2 linked regions of the Homo sapiens genome follow. The protein of the gene in region 1 interacts with the protein of each later gene in a pairwise test. Each region holds a gene or a part of one and is shown on either strand. Other genes may lie near its edges. The genes, in order: GRM1 and MAP2K5.

Region 1 (3,821 bases):
ACACTTTCCTTCACTTGGCAAAGAGTATGGTATAGCTTTGTCATCTCAATGATTCCATGCATCAGTGACCGTAACTATTAGCACAGAAAGCAGTGTCCTCAGAAGCTCAGGTGTTCATTGAGACAATAGCTCCCTCGGATATGTGGAATCCAGTAGAGGTGGGGCAGGTAAGAGGAATAAAAGAGGTAGACATCACATGTAGCTGACCTGTTCATAGACAAGCACATAAACAAACACATGTGCGACTCTCAGAAATACTTGTATGAGTTCAATTGCATTATTAGGAGGTAAAATAAAAGAGCTAGAAAGACTTAAGTTGCCATTATCATTCTTGTCCAGCTCACAATGGTGACAGGATACATTTTTCACACTCCAATTACACACCGCACAATTTTGTGTAATTATGTTTCATAATTAGGTAGTCTATATGCCCCGAAGCTCACAGGTTTGCCACATCTTTTCAATATCTCCAGAACCCTTTTTTGAGGATATTATAAAAGGAATAAATTCTGCAAAACAGACTACTGTTGTTTTGTAAATTATAAATATGAGAATTTTTTAAAAACAAGCAACCTTCCTAAAAGCAGTCATGTTACAGAGCAATGGAAAGGCCTGAATGTCTGGACACCCTCTGTCCTGGTGCATATATTACTCTGTGTAACACTTCAACAATACTGCTTACCTTCTTTTCACTCCTAAAAGAAATAACATTTCTTATTTAAATACTCCTTAGAAGACCTGCTTTCTTATGAACATTTTATTGGCTTCCAAAAACTGCACCATGTTGAAGACGCCAAGTTGACTCTGTGTGCCAGTGTGCCAATTTTGCCCACATTTAATAATTATCTTAATCATGAATTACAATTTGACCTTGGCTCCACACCTCCTCATGCTTGGAGAGTATCTCTGTTTCTTTATTCATTTATTTGTATTTCTATCCTATTTTCTTTTAAAAAGTCCCTCAAGTGTCTTATACCTCTAATTTCAGGTGATGGCAAAGTTAGTGTTCCTAGAATTGCAGTCATTATTATAAACACAAGGACAAAAGGGAAAGGTCCAGTGAGCATGTCCACACCAGTACTACCTAGCTTCCAGAGCAGAAGATCAGTGGTTGAGGCTCTTTAATGGGTGTGATATGATTGTAGTGTACCCAGAAGAAGAGATGGGAAGAGACAAAGAGCTTCGGAAGATGAGTGTGATAGGGTTGAAGATCAGTAAAGATCAGGTAAACTCAGTAGGTTCCTGGGGAAAACTGAGCAGGTTATTTATGCAATATTAGAAGCTGGCAAATTAAACAAGATATCTGTTAGGTCAAAAGCCCTATGAAAAATCCAGTGATGATGACCATCTATTGCCAAACAAGTACACGTGATTTAGAAAGAGAACAGAAATTTTGGGAGCCACCACCAGCAATTCCAGAAATCACATGCAGAAAGCATCAAAATTAGCTATCTCATAAATGTGACAAGATGATATATTATAAAATTCCACAGTTCCGTTGCATATCTTCACTTGTCTTTAGCCAACTCTGTAAATTTCAAATCTTAATACATATTTTCCATTTTCACTGCTGTCCTTTATCCACTGATATCTCAATAAGATGTTCATGTTTAGGAGGTAGGAAGACATAAGCATCGGCTTGGGTGTGGAGAAAGCAAGTGAAACGAATAATTCTCCAGATCAAGACATATTCTGCCAAACAGCTTTCCATCTTTTTTTTTTTTCTGAAAAAGTATCAGTATCTTGTTATATGCTGCTCTGCTCTTGTTTTTCTTTCTTTCCTTTTTTTTTTTTTTTTTTTATAGTTAAGGTCTCACTCTGTCACCAAGACTAGAATGCAGTGGCACCAATCATAGCTCACTGTAACCTCAAACTCCTGGGCTTAACCAATCCTCCCTCCTGAGCCTTGTTCTGCTGTTGTTTAGCAGGAAGATGCCAATATTCACATTAACAGTGAGATCCAGAACTAATGTTCAGCTCAGCACTGCACATCTCTCCCACTTTGGAGTTAGCAAGTCTAGTTTTGTGAAAGCAAGCATATGTGTTTCAAAGTGTGTGTGTGCATGTGTGTGTGTGAGAGAGAGAGAGAGAGAGAGAGAGAGAGAGAGAGAGAAACTTACCTTCCAATGAGTGAGAACTCGCCCACGACGCCAAGGCGCCGCATGGCGCTCAGGAGTCCTCGCACTGTCATGCCTTCACAGAAGCAGACCACCACTCTAGCCTTGGGAAGCCTCTCTCGGAGTTTGCGCAAGAGTCGGTCAAAGCTCTTCTCCCCAGCGTTGCTGTAGATTTTGTCAGAATGGGCGATACAGAGGCCTTCCTGGGCAGCCAGCTCTTTGAAAGCGTCCATTCCGCTCTCCCCATAATTCCCTGTCCAGAAACAATCAGCAGATGTTCAAGACAACTGTGGCAATAACACTACTTACACAATGGAATAACAACTTGTTAGTCACAGGAATGGAGAGAACGGACTTGCCAAATAATTTGTAAATATGGCTGAGACTGACGGAAGATCTGGATGGATTAAAGAGAGTAATCAAATGTAACCAGACAATCAACTCTGTGGAAATAACGAGAGACGATCTGAGCTAGGGAACCTATAATGAGACATGTTTTATAAAATGAAGGATTGCTGCCCTATTTTACAACCATTATTAATAGTTCTTGTCCCAGATTTTAACCACGTAGGAGAGATCAGTGCATTGGACTAGGGAGGTCAAAGGAGCATGAAGAGAAGCTCTGTTTATTTGAGGACTTGCATCAGCTGGCTGCCAGGTTAAGAGACAGACACTCTTGGTAACATAAAGTCCTGCAACGTTTCCACGAAGAATGAGCAAGCAAAATAAATGGAACACCTGGCCAGGCCAGAGATCAGCAGACCAGAAACAGCTATAGGGCTTTGTCAAAATCCACCATCCTCTGACAAAGTGATGGGATTATGAGAGGTTTGTGTCTTATATTTTGATTTTTGTTTTATAGCATTCTTGTAATAAAATACACTTCAAAAAACTGAAAACTCATAGAAATCAATGAGATAAATATTACACTTTACAAGTTCCCTGTCTCTCTATTCCACTGATGATTTTAGCCCCCATTTTATGAGCCTCTGTGTCTCTATTCCTCTCCCGAAGTTTGAGGATTTTCACTTGTATGTGGATGATACATCTGATACCATGCCCTCACGATTTCTCAAACTCTCCCCTTCCACTGATGTTTCCTGTAACCCACACATGTCCAGGGTCACACTTTTGACCATGTTATCACAGATGTTTCTAATACCTCTGAATGTGGATGTCAAACATCCATCTCTGCTACCTCATCTTATCATACAAACTCATATATTCTACTACCTCTACTGCAGCACTTTTTCAACCTCATCAAAATTTCAAATCCATTAACCTTCCTATTTTTTCCTTCCATCCTCCCTCTTGTTTCCTTCTTAGCCCAGCTTAGATTTCATAGTCTACCTCTTAATTGCTTCTTGCAAATTCCTTAACTCTCTTATGTTTTCCTGACATTAATGCTAGTTAAACCCAACCATCTACCTATTCCATGTCTACACCTGAGCACCTAAATATGGCTAAAAAAGACACAACCTTGCTGAATGGTTTTATTTAAAATTCATCAGCACATGTACCAAAAATGATATTCAATAGCACAAGGAAATTATACTACATCACCCCTGTAAGTAAATTTTCTTACAGAAGGAATAAATTATTTCATTAATGATTAAATATTAAATATTTCATTAATCATTTCATCCTTACTCTTCTCTCTTCAAATTTCCAAACTACCAAAACCATTCCCACTCCCCATTTTGG
Region 2 (3,821 bases), on another chromosome or scaffold:
TCAACAAATGTAGTTCCTGATATACAACAAGCAACACTGTGCCTCGCACTCATCATGGTAGGAGTTCGACACCCAAGTTTCCATGACGATATAAACCCATTATGCCACATTTAACACAAACAGTTCTTATCAACCTTTACTCTTAAGCAACAGAAAACATACTTAATGACACCGAAATAAAGTTAATCTAGCCTACAACAAAAATCTAAAAAGGGTATATAATCTGACATCAATGCTTAAATAAATCTATAAAGTTGAAAACACATGAAAATTAGTATACTGAGACAGCTTAATTGAATAAGCATAGAACACCTACGCTCTGGGGAAAGTGACCCTCCATCATGTCCAGTCCAACTCCAATGGCCTGCAAACCTCATTTCTCTCCAGGAGCTCTGCCACAGTGTCCCTCCCAGGCTGCAGCAGAACTGGCACCAGGCAGCCGGCTGACAAAGCCGCTCGCAGTATTTCTCAGCAGGGAGCCCACAGCCTTTCCAAGCAGGGCACTTAGCAGAGTGGCTGCAACTTCCTTCTAAAGGCAATTCTTTAGAAGCTTTTGCTGCAGTGGCAATTTGCATAATAGTCTTGCCTCTATAGTGCTTTTTTTTTTTTTCAAAAATAAATCTGTGCATATAAAACTGATCAAAGAGGACTATCTTAGGCAGTCCTTGCTCATTACAGCCAAAAGAGATTTTTTTTTCTGAGTCTAGTCCTCACAAATGAAACATCAACTTTTTGAGGAAGCATCTATAAAAGATTTTAGTGTTAAAAAATTATTTCTACACTCTCATAGTTAGAAAGTATTTATTGACAGGAAACTGTAAAGGGAGTACAGAATAAAGCACACAGGCAATCCAGTGGAAAGCCTGAAAACATGAAATTGCAGCCAAACAGCTACAGCTGGATGCTAGCTCTCTGGCACAGCTGAGTGCACAAAATCTCTCTGTGCCTCACTTTCCTCATGTGTAATATCAGATCTTAGCTGTACCTAACAAATGAGTTAGTATTTGTAAAGTACTCAGAAGAGTGTCTAGCACATGGCAAGTGCCATATTAGTGTCAAATAAATAAAACAAAACACCAATAACTGGAATATTACAAAGCTTACTTCGTAATAAACTTTGAAATTCCAGCACCCTACAATCAGTGGAGGATGGTGATTCACTCACTGACTTCATCCTTCAGCAGTACTTATTGAACACTCATTCTAGCCAGTGTAGGTTTAAAAAAACGAGGGGAAAACAACTGCTTCATCCCCAACTCTCTAAGTCTAGGTTATCACCAGTTATTTCCAGGAAACTCCGATCTTGAGATGTGAACTGTACCTCTATAGTGTTAGCAAATTAATTTAGGCTCCTTCCTACTTAGGAATAGCAGACCCCATCAAAGTGCAGAGTTCTAACAACCAACTGAAAACCTGCTCAGTGGCAATGGCATGCCTTAGCCCATCGACATAAACAAGGCACTGCACATGCTCCTCACCTGATACGAGGAAAAGGGAGAAAGAACAAAGCAAACTTGAGTGAGAGAATCATGTGAACACAACCAACCATTTTGTTCTTTAAAGCAAATAAAGTGGGGCAATCATAATGACAAAGAGGTAAGAAGTTTAAACATCAGTAATATCTACTAGTCATTTTAAAGCAGGGTACATTTGATGATTTTATATACATTTTCCAGCTAAAGTGACTTATTTCCAAGCGGCCTTCTTCTGCTCTTGACAATATAACATGTACCTAACTAACCTAAAGAAGGTTTCAAAAGAAAACCGGGATGGGCGCAGTGGCTCACACCTATAATCCCAGCACTTTGGGGGGCCGAAGTGGGTGGATCACTTGAGGTCAGGAGTTCAAGACCAGCCTGGCCAACATGGTGAAACCCTGTCTCTACTAAAAATACAACAAAATTAGCTGGATGTGTGGTGTGTATCTGTAATCCCAGCTGCTCAGGAGGCTAAAGCAGGAGAATCACCTGAACCTGGGAGGCAGAGGTTGCAGTGAGCCGAGATCACGCCACTGCATTCCAGCCTGGGCAACAAAGCGAGACTCTGTCTCAAAAAAAAAAAAAAAAAAGAAAAAAGAAAACCGAAGTTTACATATTTTGATGATGACCATTTTTTGATACTTTTCTTCTTCCTTTCAATAAATCAGACAAATATCTGACAGATCCAAAACATCATTGAGCATCTACAACATGCCACGAGCATAAAGATCACAAAGCTGTAGGCTACAGGACAATAAAACTTGATCCTTGACTTTAGGAAGATTATAAACTGGTTACAGAGATAAAGACAAACCTGAAAGACTAGTAATATAAAACACTTAAGAGTATAAGCACCAAACAAAAGACATAAACAGCCAATAGTATTTGGTAACTCAGGAGAAAGGAAAAAATCACAGACTCAGTTTAGACAGAAATCTGTGTGTGTGTGTGTGTGTGTGTGTGTGTGTTTTCTTCTTTTTTGAGATAGGGTCTCGCTCTGTGACCCAAGCTAGAGTGCAGTGGTGCAATCACAGCTCCCTATAGCCTCGACCTCTAGGTTCAAGAGATTCTCCCACCTCAGCCTCCCTAATAGCTGGGACCACAGGTGAGTGTCACCAAGCCCCCACTAATTTTTGCATTTTTTGTAGAGATGGGGTTTTGCCATGTTGCCCAGGCTGGTCTCGAACTCCTGAGTTTAAGCGATCTACCCACCTCGGCCTCCCAAAGTGTTGGCATTACAGGCCTAAGCCACCACTCCTGGCCCAGAAGTCTTATAGATGAGGGGAAATCTGAGCTTGGAGACCACAGAATACAAAAAGAAGAGGGGAGAGGGTTGGGCATTCTCTCTCATCACACACTAACCAGACCTCTTGTATAGTTTTCCCAAAACTAGGAACTCAGTCTCCAGGGAAAAAGAGAAACACAGAAAGCTGCAAAACAGAAGACCCAAATGTCTCTACCTTTGAGGGTCAGGTCAGCCTCCATAGTTCAGCCAGTCCCTGATGATTCAGACAAAAGACAAGGCCCAGAGAGACCGACTGACTTGCCCAGGGTCTCCCAGCTATTTGATGCACAGTGACTGGAGCCCTCAACTGCTGACTTCAGGTCCGAGACACTCAGTTATGGCTGACTCGGTGACTACAACCTGCTTCTGGCATCTGTGTCAGGTTCTGCCAAAAATTAGCTGGGTGGCTTTAGCAAGGTATTTTCCCCCTGTGGGGTTCATGCCTCTTCATTCGAAATGAGTCTGAATTAGATGAGGGGATTCTTCCAGGTTCCACGTGACTTTAAAGTTTAAGGTTCCAAGCCAGAGATGCTGACGTGTCTCTTGGTTCTTGCCTTTTCTTGATGAAGAGATGAAGTAAACCTGGAGAACAGATCACAGGAGTCTGCCATGATCTGGGCTTGAACATTTGCTAAAATGGAGCACTAGGAGATAGCACTGAACACCCACTGCCACAGGTCCTTCGTCAGGCCTTTCTGACAAAACATGCTCCACCTGGGCTTACCTAGCCAAAAGTGTGCAGACACCTGGCATGCTGAGCTCTAGTGGTGGGGCCACTCGTGTTTCCTGTTAAGCCAGTCAGCCTTGAGCCAGGTACAACTTAGAGATGCTCAAGAAACAGAAGACCCAAGTCCAATCCCTTATAATAACAATCCCATCAATAATAACAACACTAATGGAGCGCTTACTATGTGCTAAGTTGTTCTGAGTGCTTTACATGTATCAACTCAAGGAGTCCTCAGAACTCTAGGAGGTAGGCATTACTTTCACCCCTCCCCAACTTTTTTTTCACAAATAAAGAAACTGAGATACAGAAGATACTTGCCCCAGTAGTACAA

What was found.
Region 2: the proteins of GRM1 (region 1) and MAP2K5 come close enough for resonance energy transfer, tested with the Homo sapiens proteins (one large-scale study listed by BioGRID).

Annotation. Positions count from the first base shown.
Region 1 is NC_000006.12:146,157,897-146,161,717, reverse strand, and holds part of GRM1 (metabotropic glutamate receptor 1 isoform alpha precursor), read right to left. Parts: intron 2,371-3,821; coding exon 2,121-2,370; intron 1-2,120. UniProt on the Homo sapiens protein: G-protein coupled receptor for glutamate. Ligand binding causes a conformation change that triggers signaling via guanine nucleotide-binding proteins (G proteins) and modulates the activity of down-stream effectors.
Region 2 is NC_000015.10:67,545,703-67,549,523, reverse strand, and holds part of MAP2K5 (dual specificity mitogen-activated protein kinase kinase 5), read right to left. Parts: intron 431-3,821; exon of another isoform or gene 344-430; coding exon of another isoform or gene 317-343; intron 1-316. UniProt on the Homo sapiens protein: Acts as a scaffold for the formation of a ternary MAP3K2/MAP3K3-MAP3K5-MAPK7 signaling complex.